Linked DNA regions of Homo sapiens: region 2 is linked to region 1. Evidence: fine-mapped expression QTL. Tissue or cell type: whole blood. Region 1 holds a variant in brackets; the other region holds the start of a gene. Each region is shown on its reference strand, or each on the opposite one.

The links. PIP is the estimated chance that this variant, and not a neighbour inherited with it, causes the effect. A credible set is the group of variants that fine-mapping cannot tell apart.
Region 2: SPTSSB starts here. The variant in region 1 is the best candidate, but not a certain one, in a credible set for the expression of SPTSSB in whole blood (TOPMed, PIP 0.70).

The regions. Positions count from the first base shown.
Region 1 is chr2:111,046,187-111,055,280 of GRCh38, reverse strand. It overlaps ACOXL (acyl-CoA oxidase like), which reads right to left. Exons shown (of 18, transcript NM_001142807.4): 16 at 5,993-6,063. LOC124907866 (a long non-coding RNA gene) reads left to right here and starts at 5,104. Exons shown (of 2, transcript XR_007087182.1): 1 at 5,104-5,220. RefSeq lists a silencer at 5,135-5,429 and an enhancer at 5,135-5,429. The variant C/T (reference allele first, on the strand shown) is at 5,181.
Region 2 is chr3:161,366,686-161,375,779 of GRCh38, reverse strand. It overlaps SPTSSB (serine palmitoyltransferase small subunit B), which reads left to right and starts at 4,263. Exons shown (of 3, transcript NM_001040100.2): 1 at 4,263-4,345. RefSeq lists enhancers at 3,681-4,235, 4,236-4,790.

The DNA of each region.
Region 1 (9,094 bases):
GTGGGGACAGTCCCCTGCAAATGCCCTGCTTAGACACTTGGGTTGCCGTGGCGAGCACCTTACGAGAACCAAAGGCGTGAAGGCCTTCTCTGAGCACAAAGGCAGACAAAGGCACCTGCCTGGTCCTGCAGGACCAGTCCCCATGCTGGATACTGAATGGCTCAATTACTATGCCTTGGACCAAGGTTGGGGGTGGGTGAGGAGGAGAACTTTGGAAGAAGTGAAGCAGAAAGAATCTTTATGACAATGACAATTTAAGAAACATTAGACAACCAGCTTGCTGAGGTGCTTCTAAACCTTCTGTGGGGAGGTGAAGCAGTGGAGCAGTCATGTGGAAAATTCCCTTTCTCCTCCATGCACAGTCATTCCCAAGCTGAGGGAAAGGCATTGTTTTTCTTGTGAAAACCCTCATTCTGGACAGGATTCCATCAGGCTAGGGGAAAATGCCTTCGCCTGGGAAGAAGTTGTATTCAGTAAGCATGGAGGACTGAAGGGTTGAGTCATGTCGATCTCTTGGAGATTTTTGGTTGCCAGGAGGATTCAAATGTGTCTGACTTCTTAAAATGTAATTAGACAGAGAAAGGGTTGCATCTGGCCAGACCATGGTGGCAGGGGACGTGGAGGGAGGCCTGGCGTCCCTCCTTCCACACGCTCCCAGGCGTCTCTGTGCATTTGGGGGCAGCATTCATACTTGGCTGGTAAGAAATCCTAAGGAAGCTTCCAGCAGCATTCAGCCCCCACACCTCCCATCAGTGGAGCCTTCCTGGGGAGCTGTCTCTGCAGGCTTGCTCAACCTGGGCTGCAGCTCTTGGCAGCTGTACCCACCGACCCTGATGGGCCCCTGCATGTCCCACTGGGTAGACAGCAGCTATGAATACTGTTCTACATGTCTGCTTAGATCAAGGTATCATCTGTTGCACCACCAGCAGCCTGCCCACCTCAGCCAGCCCTCCACCTAGAACAAGAGGGAGCATGGTTGCTGCTGGTGCGTGACAGCCCTGCCAAAGGTTGCAACTTAGGAGCAGAGATTCAAGGCAGTGCTATAAATAAGCCAAGCTTTATTTTCCTACAGGCAGCTTGGTTTTTCTACTGTGTGCTGCCATAAATGTGGTAGATATCAGATCCACCTATAGACAGGCCTGCCTTGAGCCTCCCATGGTGCTTCTAGCCAGGTACCTTTGGCAAGGTGACCGAGCCAGGCCATAGCTGGGACTGTAGCATGGGGAATGTTCCAGGCACTCACTCAACATCACTAGAGCAGGGAAGGCTTGCTCTGAGCCAACCCTTGTTCTACTGTCTTGTTCCAGGTATAACCCATCAGCCAAAGCTCCTTCAATACTAGCTCTTGTCTCCTGACCTGGTCAGAAGCATTTACCAGCAAGGGCCACTTTCCTCTGACCATTCTATTTAAATATTTTCCAGCTTATCCGAGGGAGGCAGGGAGGCTCTGCAGGCGATGGCTTCAGGAAGTTTTAGTCCCATGGAGGCCCCTGGCTGGGGCTATCTCCCACCCAAATTGGAGGCAGCTGCTGCCAGATATGTAAGAAACTCCCAGGTGTGCAAGAACAAAATGAGGAGGTGTGATCATTTACATTCAGTAAATGATGGTGCGAGTGCAGACTGTCACCAGGAGATCTGTCTTCCTGCCAACTTCCACCCTAAACAGAGGCTCTGATTTTTAAGAGGGGACAATCCTAGTGGGAGTGGGGACAGGGAGGGTCTGGACCAAGCACTGAGAAAGAGGCCTGCTAGGCAAAGTCAAACCATGTGATTGAGGGAGAGGCTTTGGCCTTGATTCAAATCTAGGCTGACCCAATGCCCTGGTTTGCCTGGGACAGTCATGGACTATGCCTGCCATCCAAGTTCTATTTTTAATGGTGCCCCTTTCACTCACACACACACACAAAATCCATGTTTGGATGATAAGTTTTGTGATTACCCTATTCCAAAGATGAGAAGGAGTTAGGCTAGAAATGCATCCACAGAGTGACATGTAGGACGTGGGGCTCCAAGCAAGTTCACTTGGCAGCGCCTGGAGGAGAGAGACGAGTGGTAGAAGGCCAGGTTGGTTCATTCTCAAGCATATTTAGAATTGCAGCCTTGTCGATAATTTTCACTTATGACTTTGCAGAGTGTGATGCTGGAAGGGTCTTTGGGGTGGTCTAATTTACCTCCTCTTTTACTGGAAGAGGACGTTAGGCTAAAAGAGATAAAAGTGACCTGCTCAAGGTTACACTCCAGTTGCTGGCAGAGTGGGGATAGAAACTTGTCCTTAAGGGGTCAGGTCCAGGTACTCTTTGCTGGGACAGAGGGAGATGGAGGACCCTGAAAGAGGCTGCAGAGGATGAACAGACACATGGAAACTTCCATGGCAGCTCCGGGACAGGGAAGTGCCACAGACTACCCCACAGTTCCTAGATTGGGGGGGTGGGAGGACAGAAACTGGTGGGGTTTAGACTTGCTGAGCTTGCTTGGACGTGAGCTCAGGTGACACCTGGAGTCACAGGCGAGTGCAGGTGGAGCCAAGGGCAAATGGGCTCTCCAAGGTAGTGACCGAGAGGGACCAAAGAGATTAATTGGCAAATAGGACTAAGAATCAGTGAAGAAACAGGTAGGTATGGAGATCAAACGCGAACAGGGTCAAATGAGTAATTTATGGAATCTAAATATTGTTCTATGGTTCAAATTGTAGTGAAATCTGAGAGGCAACTCCTGATAACAGCTATCTTACCCTTGGGTACCGTTTCCCTAGCCCCCTTCTCGGGTCTGCAGGGTCTGTTACTTAAGCCAGTAACAGCTTCCACCTCTGCTTGGTAGATGGGAAACTGAGTCACAGAGAAGCTGGCTTTCTCCTGTCTTACAGGACCCCCAGCAACAAGGATGTGATTAACAAGCCTTGAGAGTGACTCCAGAAGCCTGCCACCACAGTACCCCTCATGGTTCCACTGCAGTCACACCTCCCGTGTGTGCTCTCATGGTGCTGAAGGGGTGGAGTGGTGGAATTTTCTATGAATTTGCTCATCTGAGTGGGCCCCGCAGGAAGAAGCCCAGCTTTCTGGTCCTAGTTCTATTGCCGGCTGACTAGCTATGCAATGGTGGCTAGTCACTTGTTTTCCTGTCCCTCCTGCTTTTCCTGGTTGTCAGATGAATGTTCTGGCTTATGCCATCTTCAAAATCTCAATGTTTTTGTCTTTGCAGGGGAATCTGACCTTGGTTCAGCCATCTGATGAACCAAGTTCATCTCTTGCATCTTCTTGGCAGTCTGTCTATAGAGCATCTTCTCAGGTTAGGCAAGGTGGAGCTATGTGATTGAGGGAGGGGCTTTTGACTTGAGTCAAAATTAGGCTGCCTGGGACAATCATGGACCATGCCTGCCATACAAGCTGCATTTTTAATGGTACCCCTTTAAATATTTGTGCTCAGATCTCAATTACCCTTGACAATGTAGAATGCAACATTGGAATGTTTGACAATGCAGGAATGCATGCAAAATATAATTTTAAAAAATATCAGCTGGGCGCAGTGGCGTATGTCTGTAATCCCAGCACTTTGGGAGGCCGAGGCGGGTGGATCACCTGAGGTCAGGAGTTCAAGACCAGCCTGACCAATATGGTGAAACCCCATCTCTACTAAAAATACAAAAAATTAGCCAGGCATGGTGGCAGACACCTGTACTCCCAACTAGTGGGGAGGCTGAGACAGGAGAATTCCTTGAACCCAGGAGGTGGAAGTTGCAGTGAGCTAAGATCACGCCACTGCACTCCAGCCTGGGTGACAGAAGAAGACTCTGTCTCAAAAAAATATATATCATATTTGGCCCAGATCTACGTTTTTTGCCTCCAACAAGTTTTCATGAGGTTAAGTTAAATGTGGGAATTTATTTCAGACAGTCTGCAAAGTGGATAGCTCACTAGAGCAAACATACAATCACCTGCAGGCTGACTGTAGTCAAAATAATCTACTGTCACCCTGAATAGGTTTTCTCACATAACATCTACAAAAACCCAGCATACCATTGTCACACCCACATGGTGCCTTCTGATATGTGACATTAGAAAACCTCAATCTCCTAAAAAAAATCATAAAATAGTTTCAGTATATATGAACTCGGCACACGTTTTTGTTCAGTGAAACTTCTTTCTTTGATGATGCCTGTTCAAATATTTGCAAATATTGAGAAAACGCCCACATAAATCATCCTCTGTTGCTGAGGCCACACAGTCTGCAGAAACCAACAGGTAAGACACAAAATACTGAACGCCACTGGAGGTCACGCAAATTCCAGGAAACCTCAGGCCATCTTAGCCTTCCTCTCCCAACCCCAATCTGTTAGTTTCTAACCGAATGTGCTAGAGAAGCCAGCCAGAGCACCATGAAAGTCAGCAAGAAGGTGAAATGGTGAGAGGAGGAGGGGCCTTTGGTTACATCTCTTTTCACCTCTCACTCTAGATGTGAAGAAACTCAGAGGGGGCTGCGGCATCCCAAGTCGGGGAGGCCATGAGGACCACTAGAAGCAGGCCTGGAGGTGTGGTCTCTGGGGCTGGGCTCTGTCGCTGCCCTCTGTACCCCAAAATGCCTCTGAGATGCCCATGTAACCTCCAGGGGAGCCCAGGAGCTTCACCTCCTGCAAATGGGGAGAGATGGACAGTAGGAGAAGAACAAGAGAGAAGCAAGAAGCAAATGGTAGGAGAAAACACAGGATAGAGGGAAGAAAGACCAAAGGCCGGTGAGCAGAGAAAAGAGGTGAGCATCCAGGGCCCAAGAGCTGCTTCAAGGTCATGGAAAGCCAGCCTGCACCTGGAAGGAAAGGTCCTTGCAGAATAGAACTTAAAGCAGGAAACAGAGAATTAAGCGTGGCAAACAAGAAACGCCCATGTGCCTGAATCTATATCATTCTAAGTCAGTGTATCAGACGCCCAGGACTCTGAAAAATCAGGGTTCCCAGACAAACCCAACACTTGGTATGAGCAGCGCTTCTTTATTATAAAACTAACATCACTGAAAGCTTTTTTTTTTTTAAAGACCAAAAATATCACATCTTAGGCAAATGAGTTGAAAATCCCTCAGAGTGACACCCTATTTTTTTTCCACCCATTTCTAAAGTCAGAGGACACCTGGTAAAGAAGCTGGTTTTTAGATAAAGAAATGCAATTCCTGGTGCACGCGGTTTCCTGGTGGTA[C/T]AGCACTGAAGTGACATCATGGAAATATTTGTACCTCAAGGTCAGTCTGCAAGGTTTCTGTGTGAAAGCATGAGTCTTAGTGGTGGGAAAGTATGTGTGTGCACCTTTGTGATCTGCTGCTGTTTACTGCTCTCTGCTTCAAAGACAAAGTTTTAATTAAATCCAGGTGGGCAGCTTGCCAGGGTTTTCCACACTTTTGGCTCACCTAGGTAGGCAGCCTAAGTGCAGGTTATACCATTTGGAAATGCCTCTGCTCCTGTCACTTGGAAGGAAATAAAACAACTGTTCCTTGGGGCGGGGGGTTGGGGGGAAGAAGCTTGTCTTCCACTCAAGGGCAAGGAATCTATGACATAAGATGCTCATTCTGGTGGTGAATATGAACAGTCTAATTTGTGTAGCATTCCTTAAGGTGCCAAAAGTAGGAAGCAGCAGACTGGGAACGTATGGAATCCTTTGTCTTAATTAAAAATATAGTGGGAGATGTGGAATTTGGCCAAGCCTCATAAATCTGCTAAAAAAGCATCAAGACTCCATCAGATAAGTTTAAATAGAACCAACTGAGCCCTCTGGAGAGTTAAACAGATTCCCCACTCATGTGGACACCCACTCTCCTGTCACTTTCCCGCACTCCGCAGGCAGCAGTGGTGCTCGTTAACCAGCAACCCTCCAATTCGCCTATGACAAGCTTATCCCCCTGGAGCACACGATTCAGACATGATAAATTTACTCCCGCTTGTAAAAATGAAACTCTCCTCAGGGCAATAAAAACGCTCTGAGCCTTTAGGAAATAAGTTCTTTATCTGATAACCTACCTTCATTAACAAAGTCTGGTCCTCTTGGTCAGGACAGCTCTTCACTGCTAGGGAGAACTGCTCTAAGGTAACTGGAAGGGAAGAAATGGAAATTGTGAATGACTTCACTTCCGCCTCAGAGCCCTTCTGATGTGAAGGAGGACACTGTGGTTATAACAGACGTAAACAGCATGCTGTCCGTCCTTCCTTGGTGACATGGCAGAGCTCCCCAACTGTCCCCTGCATGGGTCAGGGGCCCCCGTACAGTGACTTCTCCACCCCATCAGACAGAGTCATTACAGTAGAGTACAAGGCCATTCCCATCAGCAAAGCTCCTCCCTAAACTGCCAGGAGGTCCTGGGTTCAGCTTCCTTTTGGGTCATCTTGTCCCCAGAGATGACACTCTATCTCCATTTCCTGGGACCTTCATTGAGAAGACTCCACCTGCCTTTGTAAATTTGACAGTGCTAATTTAAAAAATCTCAATCTTCCATCATGATTTCCATGGCTTTAACTCTTCTCTTGGTGTATGGCCCCAAGTGTTGACTCAAACCCCACAAACTCCCCCAAATATATAAAGTCGTCTTTCTCCAACCAACCTTCTCAAGGAGAATAGGGAAGAGAAACCCAAGAAGATTTACGAGAAAAAAAAAAAGTTTTAGTAATCCATTGAAATTGGCCATGAAAGCTCTAGGAATATTAATCTAGAAAATTTACAAAATTACATTCCCCTTCTCATATTTATGGCCAGGTTCTCATCAAAGGCTCACTTATGTGGTGACCAATTTTTATTTTGGTGTAAGTCACAGACTGCCCTCCTGTAGGCTGTGTTGACTACATTGTTTCATGCTTGAAAATGCTCCCACAATTCTCTGCCACCCTCAGATTTAAAACCACTTATTTGACACGCATTAAGGCTTTTACTAAGTTAACCCAACTAGTTTAGCCTTTGATTGCTATACTCAAAGCTGCGTTCACTCTTTACCCTCTATGACCTTTCATTGCTCTCTGCTGGGAAGAGTTCTGCCTCTTGTCTTTGAGTAGAGCAAAACTCAGTCCTCCAACTGAACATCCCAAGCCCACCCATCCAGCCAATAAAGACATTGATTGCCCTCTGGTCCCATCCCAACTCCCGCAGATCCCACAAAGGTGGGCAGAGCTAAACTCAGCCTCAAGGCTGAGGGACAGTCTGATTCCAATGATTTGACCTCAAGCATGCCTGGATGTCATGTCTACAAATACAGATATTTTAAAGAGAACTATATCAGCAATGATGAATTTTCATCAAGAAAATATTGTCTGGGTAGGTTGTTTGTAGTTTTCAATGTTACTCTAAAATAGAATTCCTTAGACTGCTTTCATCTCTGACTAAATTACTCCATGCCATCTTGACTGCTATCAGTTGTATCTGGTGCTGATTATTTCTTCCAAGTTTAAATTTTGCTCTATCCAGTCAAGACATACTTGGGATCCATAGAGAGATCAATGTTGCCTTCCACATGCTCTCCAATGCATATACCCACCCAGTCTTCAATTGGCAGAAACCAGTGTTAATTACATAGAATCATCAATTTAATCTTTTTTAAAAATTAACTTTGCCTATAAAAGTGGCTCAGCAGAAACTTGTACATTGAGATAAGGGCCCAAGCTGTGTTAAGTTTACACGAATGCTTTTGCTGTCACTCATTCAGAATACACCTGCCTGGGAAAGACCCTGGAGGCAAGACCTCTCTCCCTCAACTCCGTCCTCAGTTTTGGACTTTTGCTGTGATCTGATTTGGTGTGATAACATATTGATCTCTGACTACTGTCTGAGGATGGCTAAAGAATAATCTACAAATTCAGGTGCTAGGTTTTCTTTAGATCACCTTTTTAAGGTGGCTATTTTATTTGGTAAAGGTTTATGCTGTAACTTAGAATCTTACTTAGTGCAGGTCAGGGAAATTGAAACACTTGCTTCCTTAGAGAGCTACTGGATTCTCACTGACAGCTCTCTCCTCTCTGTGGTGACCCTGTGTTCATACTTCTCACTGCCTGTGCACTGGACTCCACTATGATACTTTTCGTTATCATAGACATAGCACCCACTTCAAGTTACCTTGAACTCTGTACATCCAATCCAAACCAGTCAACTTCCATACCAAGCCAGCCCTTTCCAACTTTTTCCCATTTCTGTGGGACTATCATCCTCCAGCCACCAGGCCACTGAGCCTGATTCTTTGATTTCTCCCTCAGGACCCCATGCCTGCTGACTCTTGTACGATGATGTCCCTTGGATGCACCACTTTCCCACAGTAGTGCTGCCACTTTGATTTCTGGAGAACTTCTCGCTCTTTCCCAGCCTCCATGCCCACTGCTGCCACCACTCTGAGCCTGGCCCTGCTGGAGCCCTATGCCTATGGCCTGCATTCCTCCTCACCACACCAGGCCTAGCCCCTCTTCCCCGTGCAAACCACCCTGATGGCTCCTGACTCTCATTCATGCAGGGTTCCATCTTGGGCCATGCACTCCCTCCCTGTCTCCTCAGGTTGGCCAGGATCCCACCTGATATGGTTTGGTTGTATCCCCACTCAAATCTCATCTTGAATTGTAGCTCCCATAATCTCCGCATGTCACGGGAGGGGACACAGTGGGAGGTAAATGAATCATGGGGGTGGTTACCCTCCATACTGTTCTCATGATAGTGAGTTCTCATGAGATCTGATGGTTTTATACAGGGCATTTCCCCCTTTTGCTCGGCACTTTTCCTTCCTGCCACCATGTGAAGAAGGACGTGTTTGCTTCCCTTTCTGCCATGATTGTAAGTTTCTTGAGGCCTCCCCAACCCTGCAGAACTGTGAGTCAATTAAACCTCTTTCCTTCATAAATTACCCAGTCTTGGGTATGTCTTTATTAGCAGCATGAGAAAGAACTAATATACCACCCTTCTCCAGGGCCAGCATGGGGAGTAGTCTCAACACAGGTTTGGCATCAGACAGACCTGACTTTAAATCTTCCCTCTGCCACTTCCAGCTGTGTGTCCTTAGACAAGTCACACAGCCTTGCTGAGCCTCGCTTCCTCATCAGTGACGTGTGGAGCCCGGAGCCCACTTGCTGGAGCAGGTGTGAGGCTGTGTGTAAAGA
Region 2 (9,094 bases), not on the chromosome of region 1:
TAAATTTTACAAGTGTTTCAAGATTAGGGTCTTTCCCCAGTGAAAGACTTCAGTCTAAGCGTATGCATACTTGTTAAACAGGAATCAGTGAGTTGGGGAATGTAGCTCATGCATAGTTTCATAGGAACTCAAAAAAAATGTGGTAAGCAAAAATAAAGGGGGGAGCAGGCAGGAAGGAAGGAAAGAAAGAAGAAGCAGGCCTCATTTTTGCCATTTACACCTTGTAGAAAAGGGGCTAAGTTATTTTTAGATTTAAGAGGATCTTTCCAAAGCAACCCAAGGGTACTCAGTAATGATACTTGGATTTCTCTGATTGCTGGTAAGTCATGGAGTAGGCGCATGGTTTACTGAAAGGAAGGGAAGAAGGGGTAACATCCCAGTGACAAAATGGAAGGAATGTGAATAGCCAGAAGAGAAGTTACTAAAAGATGGCAATAAAGAAAGGCAGAATGGGGTTCGGGGTTCAGCAGGAACCATATGATGAGTACTTTGTAAATGACATTTCATTTAATTTTCAAAAGAACCCTATGAAGTCAATATTATTCCTACTTTATAATTGGGAAAACCAAGTATACTGATACAGCTAATTGTCTCAGACTACAGAACTGATTAGTAGAAAGAGCTAGGACTTGAATCCAGAGCTGTTTTTCTTCAAAGTCCATATTCTTTTCACCATGGTCAGGTTTGGAAGCTTTAGAAAAACTCACATTTTATCCTTGAATTTTCATCTGCTAAAAGTAAGATTACTCTCAGCAAATGCATGAAAGATTGGGTAGCTGACTATGGGTCATTTTAAGTGGATTCTCCCATCAACTCCTTTCTTCTTCCTGATATTGTAGACTCCAGAGACATCCCAAAAAAACCTAAACACAGTTTTACAAAGTGGACCCATTCCTTTCCCAATAATATCTGTCTCCAAACATCTCAGGTTACCTAGGGGAATACACACTAGTGATGATTACTTTTGAAAGTTTTCTACTCCAGCAGTGTGTTTTTTAGTTATGCGATAGAAACTTTAGGATACTGATGATGAAAGGCCTGGTTCAAAATGATCAGTTGATACAATTATCATTACTTTATGTTCTTACACTATTATATTCTTAACAATTCTGCCTGGTTCTTCAAATTTCATTCACCTCTGCACAAGCTGTAGTGCTAACTAATTATTATCTCACAAGTTCCAGTAATCAGAACAAAAGAAGATGCCATCTCATGCACAAAAAAATATCAATTGAGGTGCTTTTTAAATTTTTTAATATCTTCCTTATCTGTGGTTGTATGCCACCTTTCTTTCCTAATGTTATCTGTATCTTCTCTGCTTCCTGATCTTTTCTAGATTTATTTCTTGATCTTTCCAGAGAATATTTTTTTCTTTTCTTGATCAAGTCTCCTTTTTCATTTTTGTTTTTGTTTTTTACTTTCCTACTTTATTATTTTCTGCTGTTATCTTTATTAGTTAACATAATTCTTTCACAATTTTTTCTAAGTCTCCTTGTACATTGTTTTGCAATAAAGACACTTAGTGTGTAATTTCATAGATTGTTTGGCTTTTCTGTATTCTCTCAATTTTGTTATGTAGGGTTTTTGTTTTTCTTCTGTTCCTAAAGAGTTTGTAATTTTCCCATTTGTGCTTTTTAATACAGATTCAAAGCATCTTTAAATTTCCAATAGTATATCAATCAGGGTAAATGTTTGTTGTTAATTTTATCCTTATTGTATTTTGATGGATGATGTGGTCTGTATGACTTCTGCCTTTTAAAATGTGTTGACCTAAGCCTGGACATCAAAATGAGACCCCTTCTCTAAGGAATTTAAAAAATAGCTGGGTGTACTGGCACGTGCCTGTAGTCTCACCTACACAGGAGGCTGAGGCGGGAGGATCACTTGAGCCCAGGAGGCTGAGACTGCAGTGAGCTGTGACTGTGCCTCTCCGCTCCAACCTGGGCGACAGAGTGAGACCCTGTCTCCAAAATAAAAATAAAAATAAAAGTGTTGACCTATAGTTTGTGATCTAGTTAAGTTTCGAGAATGTTCTATAGTTGTATGGAAAACATGTTAATATGTATTCTCCGTTTGGAGGTGCTAAGATATTCATAAAGATGTTCCTGTGTGTGGTTATAATACGTGTATGTTATTTAAGATTATTTTTAATGGTCTGAATACATCTGCCAGCTGTGCCAGTTTCCCCCAACCTCCAGTTGGAGTAGTTGCAAGGTCTCATATCCATTTCACAAACCTTTGCCAAGAAGGTCTATTTCTATATTTCCACAAATGTGCAATCACAGTATGGAGGGTGGAGTGTCACAACTAAGTGGGGGTAAATAGATAATGAAAAATAAGATTTACCAGTGTAAATAGAATTGGCCTCACCAACATGGCCTTGGTAGTCCCCGCCAAGTCCTTTCTTAGGGTTTCTATTTCCTGATCTACATGCCCTGAGTGGTCATATCTACCCTGCCAATATTGCAAGGTGTGTCGCGAGAAGCCAAAAGATAAGGAATGTGACCAACATAAAGTGATAAAGAAATAAATAACACTAGCAGTGGTTGCTGCTATTTAGACACGGGAGCAGAAGGAAATGATAACTACGTAAAATGGCTAACACGGGCCCAAGCAGGTGCTCTGTTTCTATTGGTTCCCTTCCCTGCCCCCATCTACCTTTAGCTTCCTCTGGGGACATCCTCCCTCCTGCATGGAGACACCACCGCCCAATAACGTGAGCCTCCCTCTTCGTAATAGCCCTGGCAGTGTGGAACCCGCTGAAAGCGCGTTGTGAGGATGAGCAGAGACCTGCCAGCAGCTAAAATTCGCGCTTTAACACAATCAGCCCTGGCCGAGCATGTGCAGTGTCTCCTCCTTCGGCAGTGGGGGCTGATGGGCAGATACTGCCCAAATGCTCATTCATCAAAAGAGGCTTTCGCTCCCGGACTCCCCTGGGCCTCGAGCAGAAAGCGTCTCGGCCACGGAGATACAGAACCGGGAGCCTTCAAGGTCCTCCGCCACTCTCAGCAAGCCCTGCTCTCGATGGAGAGGAGATCGCTGGGTGATGGATGTGGGCTTCCAGGGAAGGTGCTCGCGCTGGTCCCGAGCCCTCCGGGGAAGATATTCGAGCGCGGAGCGTAAGCGCAGGGCACGCCAGCCCCGGGAGCCGCGGGAGCAGGCGCCGCGCGTCTCTGCACCACCGGGCCGCCTCCCAGCCTTCTTTCCCCAGTTTGCCCTCCTGCCGCAGTCCGGGCCGAGATTAATTCTCTGCACTTGTGAGTGGGCACACACAAGTTCTCCGGGCACGATCCTTTCATCTATTTCCCTGGGGGAGTCCACCTTTTTAACGATTAACCTCCTAGCTACCGCGGGCAAGGTGGCAGGATGCGAGTGGGGCGGGGAGGGGCGTTTCACACGTTCAGAGGCACCAAAATTAGCTGCCAGTGCTAAAAGGCTTTGCTTTCTTCGGTTTTTGACAAATAAATGGGGTGGGATGCTTGCTTGGCCGCCCGCTGCCCCAGCCCGAGCCCTGGGCTCACTTAGCAGCCTGATGCCGAGTTTCAGACGCAGTCCTGCTGCGCTTACACCCGGGCTTCTTCGCCCCCTTGCCAAAGTCTGCAGCCCGATGGATGCTGGGCGCGGGCTTTCCCTGAGCGCTTTAACGCAGCTTAGGCTAAAGCCCCAGAGCTCCCACCTTCTACCTCCTGTTTATCCGCCCGCCCCTCTACCACCGCCAAAGGACGTGCCCCTTCAGTAGAGTCGGGGATCCCAGCCCCAGAGCGGGGGAGGGCGCCTCCCTATCCCCTCCTCCCCGTCCCCGCCTCGGCTCGGGGTTTTACTGCAGCAGCCGGAGGTGACAGCGACGCCTCAGCCGCCTCTGTTGCTCTCGGAGCCCCGGCTTCCCCTGCACCGGGAAAGCGCCCCCTCTCGAGAGGCTGGTCCCTGGAGAACTGCGAACGAGCTGCAGAAAACCAGATTTTAAAATGTAGAAGTCGTTGGGCTGCATTCCTCCGAGGACCAGTCTGATCGCCCAGGACTAAGAGTGGCAGCGTATGAGAAGTTGGGACCATAGAGCAAGGGGGGGAGGGGAGTGTTGCAGCAGGCATTCTCTTCTGGAAGGAGTCGCTGGGAGCAGTGCGGTTGGACACAAGTTTGCGTAGGAGTGTTTTCCTTTTGTCAATAATTAATCACCGGAATTAGCCAGGTAGAATTTGAGTTTTAGCAAGAGTCCTGAGGGCGGGGCCGAACACCTAACTCCGGGAGGCTCCCAGGCGCCCGGCGCAGTGGGAAGCTCGCAGCAGCTGGGGAGGAGCCAAAGCCTCGGCGCTCACCTAAGCCGCAGGGAGATACACCCAACTGGGAGGTAAGCATCTTCCAAAATACCTACTTGAACTGTTAAGTAGCTTTAGTAGGATAGAATTCCTGTCTCTATAGGAGGAAAAAATTAATACTGAGCTTTAATGCAATTTATCAGTTTATTATTTAACTGCATTACAATTTTCAGAATTGATGGATTTTTCCATTTACCTTTCACTATGTGGGAAACTAAGATGTTTCACTCAGTAGAAGCCAAACTTTAACACTGAAACTTTCCAAACTAAAAGAAGAGAAAATTTCTTTACTATTTTCACTATTTACCTTCGTGTAGTCCATTAACGACTCAGGAAAATATCATTGGGTTGTGCTTGGTTTCCTTCTTAAATATTCATCTTTACCTAGTTCCGTGCTCCTATACAATCCCTCTCTGCCCATAAGCTACTTAAACTACTGTACTTTAGGCAATAGTACACACAAGTCACCTGCCAAAAAGTGAAGAATTTCCAACAAGGAATACATTTTAACATTCTCTTGTAAGTATTAAGCAGTATGTATTTTCTCAAAGATACTTAAGTCATCCTTTATAAGTAACCAAACTTCTTCACCAAAAGACAGCCAGCTAGAGTTAGCTAAATAGTTAACTTTGCCATGGGGATGAAGAAGGTGGGGAAATGTTTAGAGTAGCATTTTAAATATGAGTTGGACTCCAGATTTGTTTCAACTAAAGTGACATTCAACTGGTTGGCAATTCACATATGAGCCCAGTCCACAATCACATAAGGAGTTTGAAGAATTGTTAAATGTAAGAACTAGCCCCAAAGTCCAAATAACTGCATCAGGGGAGTTGGGAAAATTGTTTTTCAAAAAGATTTTGTGGTGCAGTACTTATTTTGAATTAGACAAAAATTAAGAAAGACATGGTAATTTTTGCTAGTGAAATTCTAAAATGTATACATAAAAGTGTTGAATTTTTAATAACTTGATTTCCACATCTGAATTATTCCTATGCTGTTTAAAACAGGTCATTTCGGTGACTTTCTCAAGGGCTGTGAAGGCTTTGTACATAGATAACTAGACCAAAACCAACAAGCTGTAGTATGAAATGTACTGTCACTCTCATTATCCAGATATTTATTTACAACTATTTAATGATAATAAATTAAAAATTATTTGTCAAAACAAAGCATGGTCATTCTAGAATTCGACTAGATTTGAAGTTGAAAGTCGATTTGAAGTTGAAAATCAACCAGTCCTCAACTCTCATTGGTTTTCTTAATTCACTGTAAATTTGCAAATACTTTTATAAAAACTGCCCTTTATAATTGTACAGCAATTCTATCTCTACTATGCTAATTATAAAGAGAGTTTTGCCACTATCTTACCACCAAGTATAAAAGAAACAAAATATTCATAAAAAATGATCCAAATGGGACTCACTTCCAGAATGGTGATGTGAAGAGCTTTTCAAATCCACTCCCTAAAAACAACAATAACTGGTGAAAATTATAGATAAATAACCATTTAAAGTTCCTGGTAATTGTCCTAAGGACATACAGCACGAAGAAAATATTTATTCAAGACAATCTCTTATATTTCAGTAAGAACTGCAAACAATTGTGATGCTTGAACCACAATATATTTCCCCACCCTCTCCAGTTGAGTGTGATGATGTTCCAGTAAGGATGGGTGCAGCCACTAACGCAGGGCCCCCTCTCAACCTAGATCCTCGTCTACAGTATACCCTGAGAGAAGCAGGCCACCAGCATTACTCATCATCCCCAGCTTTGTGTTTCAGAGCTCTATTCTAGATAAGAGCAACTGAGAGTTCTGAGGCTCTCTTCCTCCAACCATCCTCCACTCTTAAGACAGAAAATGAAGAACTCAACAACAAGAACACAACTCATTTAAAAGTGGACAAAAAAATTTGAATAGACATTTCTCCAAAGAGCAGGTAGAAACAGCCAATTTACACATGAGAAGGTGTTTACTAGCCATTAGTGGTTGGGGAAATGAAAATCAAATCAAAACCACAGTACAATCCCACTTCACACCAACCGGAATGGCTATCACAAAAAAAAAAAAAAAAAAAAAAAAAGGAAAGAAAGAGAGACAGAGAGAGAAAGAAAGAGAAAGAAAGAAAGAAAGAAAGAAAGAAAGAAAGAAAGAGAAAGAAAGAAAGAAAGAAAGAAAGAAAAGAAAGAAAGAAGAAAAAGAAAGAGAAAGAAAGAAAGAAAGAGATAATAGCAAGTGTTAGAGAAGATGTAGAGAAAATTGAACTGTCATATATTGCTGGTATTGCTGGTGGGGATGGAAAATGGTGCAATCGCTATAGAAGAGAGTTTGATCGTTCCTCAAAAAGTTGAGAATAGAGTTACCACATAATCAAGCAATTCCACTCCTAGGCATATATTCAAGAGAATTGAAAACTTATGTCCGTTCAAGAACTGTACACAAATGTTCATAGTGGCATTACTCATAACACCCAAAGAAGCTGATTGAAACAACCCAAGTTGTTTATTGAATGATGAATGGATAAATAAAATGTAGTATGGAATGAAATGATAAAATATTATTCAGCAATGAAAATCATGTGGCTGATACATACTACAACATGGATGAACATTGAAGAGATTACGTTAAGTGAAAGAAGACCACATACTATATGATTTATTTACATAACATATCCACAATAGGCAAATCTATAGAGAAAGTAGATTAGTTGTTTCCTGAGGCTGCAGTAGAAGGTAAGATTAGGGGCCGGGCGCGGTGGCTCACGCCTGTAATCCCAGCACTTTGGGAGGCCGAGGCGGGCGGATCACGAGGTCAGGAGATCGAGACCATCCCGGCTAAAACGGTGAAACCCCGTCTCTACTAAAAATACAAAAAATTAGCCGGGCGTAGTGGCGGGCGCCTGTAGTCCCAGCTACTTGGGAGGCTGAGGCAGGAGAATGGCGTGAACCCGGGAGGCGGAGCTTGCAGTGAGCCGAGATCCCGCCACTGCACTCCAGCCTGGGCGACAGAGCGAGACTCCGTCTCAAAAAAAAAAAAAAAGAAGGTAAGATTAGGGAGAAAACGGGAGTGACTAAAGGGTACAGTGTGTCTTCTTGGGGTGATGCAAATGGTCTAAAATTGACTGTCATGATGGTTGCAATACTGTAAATATACTAAAAACCACTGAATTGTGTACTTTAAGTAGGTAAATTGTATGGTGAGTTTTATCTCAATAAAGCCGGTTTAAAAAAATTTTCCAGAGTATTAAAAGAACAAATGGGTTTAAAACTTAGAGTTGCTGAATCCGCATGTGCCATTTGACCAATAGTTTATGTGAGGCTTTTCCCCAATGACCACATTAAAATATATGAAATATTTAAGAATTTCACAGGTGTCACACAGCTATGTGATTCACATATGTTTACATGCCTGCCCAAACTTTTCTCCACTTAGAATTAAGTCAAATGTCATTAGTATAGTCCTACAAAGAATTTGCTTGCAATGCTATATCTTTTTGGACTCATCAATTCGTTATATTAATCCAGGACCTGTGAGGCCACTTGTTCCTCCTACTTCTAGATATGTCTAGTCCTTTATCAGTGATTCAGGCCAGCGGTTGAGTTTGTTCAGGCCCACATTGGGTGAGAGAGGAAGGTACCTGGATCTCAGCCAAAAGTGTACTTGCCTTCTACTCAGATTAACCCAGTTTTGCCTACACTAGACTGGCCCTAAAAGCCAGAGAGTCTTGGGAAGAGGAAAAGCTGGAGCAGCCACTGAAGTCTTCACAGCATACTAACATGTCATTGTCAGAAAGCATCTGCTGTGATTACGACAACCTCAAATGCAGGAGACTCTCCCAAATAATTAATATGTTCCTCTATTCATCTTTTATGTTTTGAGTTCCCACAAGCTGCCTGATCCTGTACTAAGAACCATGAAATCAAATGATAATGCTTCGTCCAGAAATGGAAATATAAAACTAGTGAGCCTCAGAGTGTCATGGGGGTGGCAAGCAGCCTCAGCCTTGCTGCCAGACAGTTATTAGTTCACTGAAACAAACCATACCCTTAGCTTTAGGGATTTAAGTCTACCGGCTTCAGGAAACCTCAAGATTTTCCATTCTCACCAGCACAGGCTTATTCTTTCATGTGTATGTTTTTGAGGAGCATATCATGCTGATTTGTGTGGGTTTTGACCATGAAAGCTTTTGTAGAAGTCCACTGTAATATTTTCTCTAATTAAAAGATTTATATAAAATAATTTTTAATGTCCAGCAATTTATTTATTTTATTTTTATTGATTTATTTATTTTGAGACAGAGTTTCACTCTTTTTGCCCAGGCTGGAGTGCAATGGCGTGATCTCAGCTCACTGTGACCTCCGCCTCCCAGGTTCAAGTGATTGTCCTGCCTCAGCCTCCCCAGTAGCTGGGATTACAGGCGTCTGCCACCACGCCCAGCTAAATTTTCTTGTATTTTAGTAGAGATGGGGTTTCACTATGTTGGCCAGGCTGGTCTCAAACTCCTGACATCAGGTAATCCACCCACCTTGGCCTCCTAAAGTGCTGGGATTATAGACGTGAGCCACTGCACCCGGCCCAGCCATTTGTTTATAAAATCAATACATGTAGGAAAAAACTTGATTATAGTTACTTTTAAAATATTGCTTTCATCAGGATTAATAATTCATTTATTCAACAGATTTTAAAAAAGATAAATGAATTATTGCACACCTACCCTGTACCAGGTCACTTCTAGGCCCTGGATAAGTAATAAACAAAATAGACAAAAATTCCCAAGATGTCA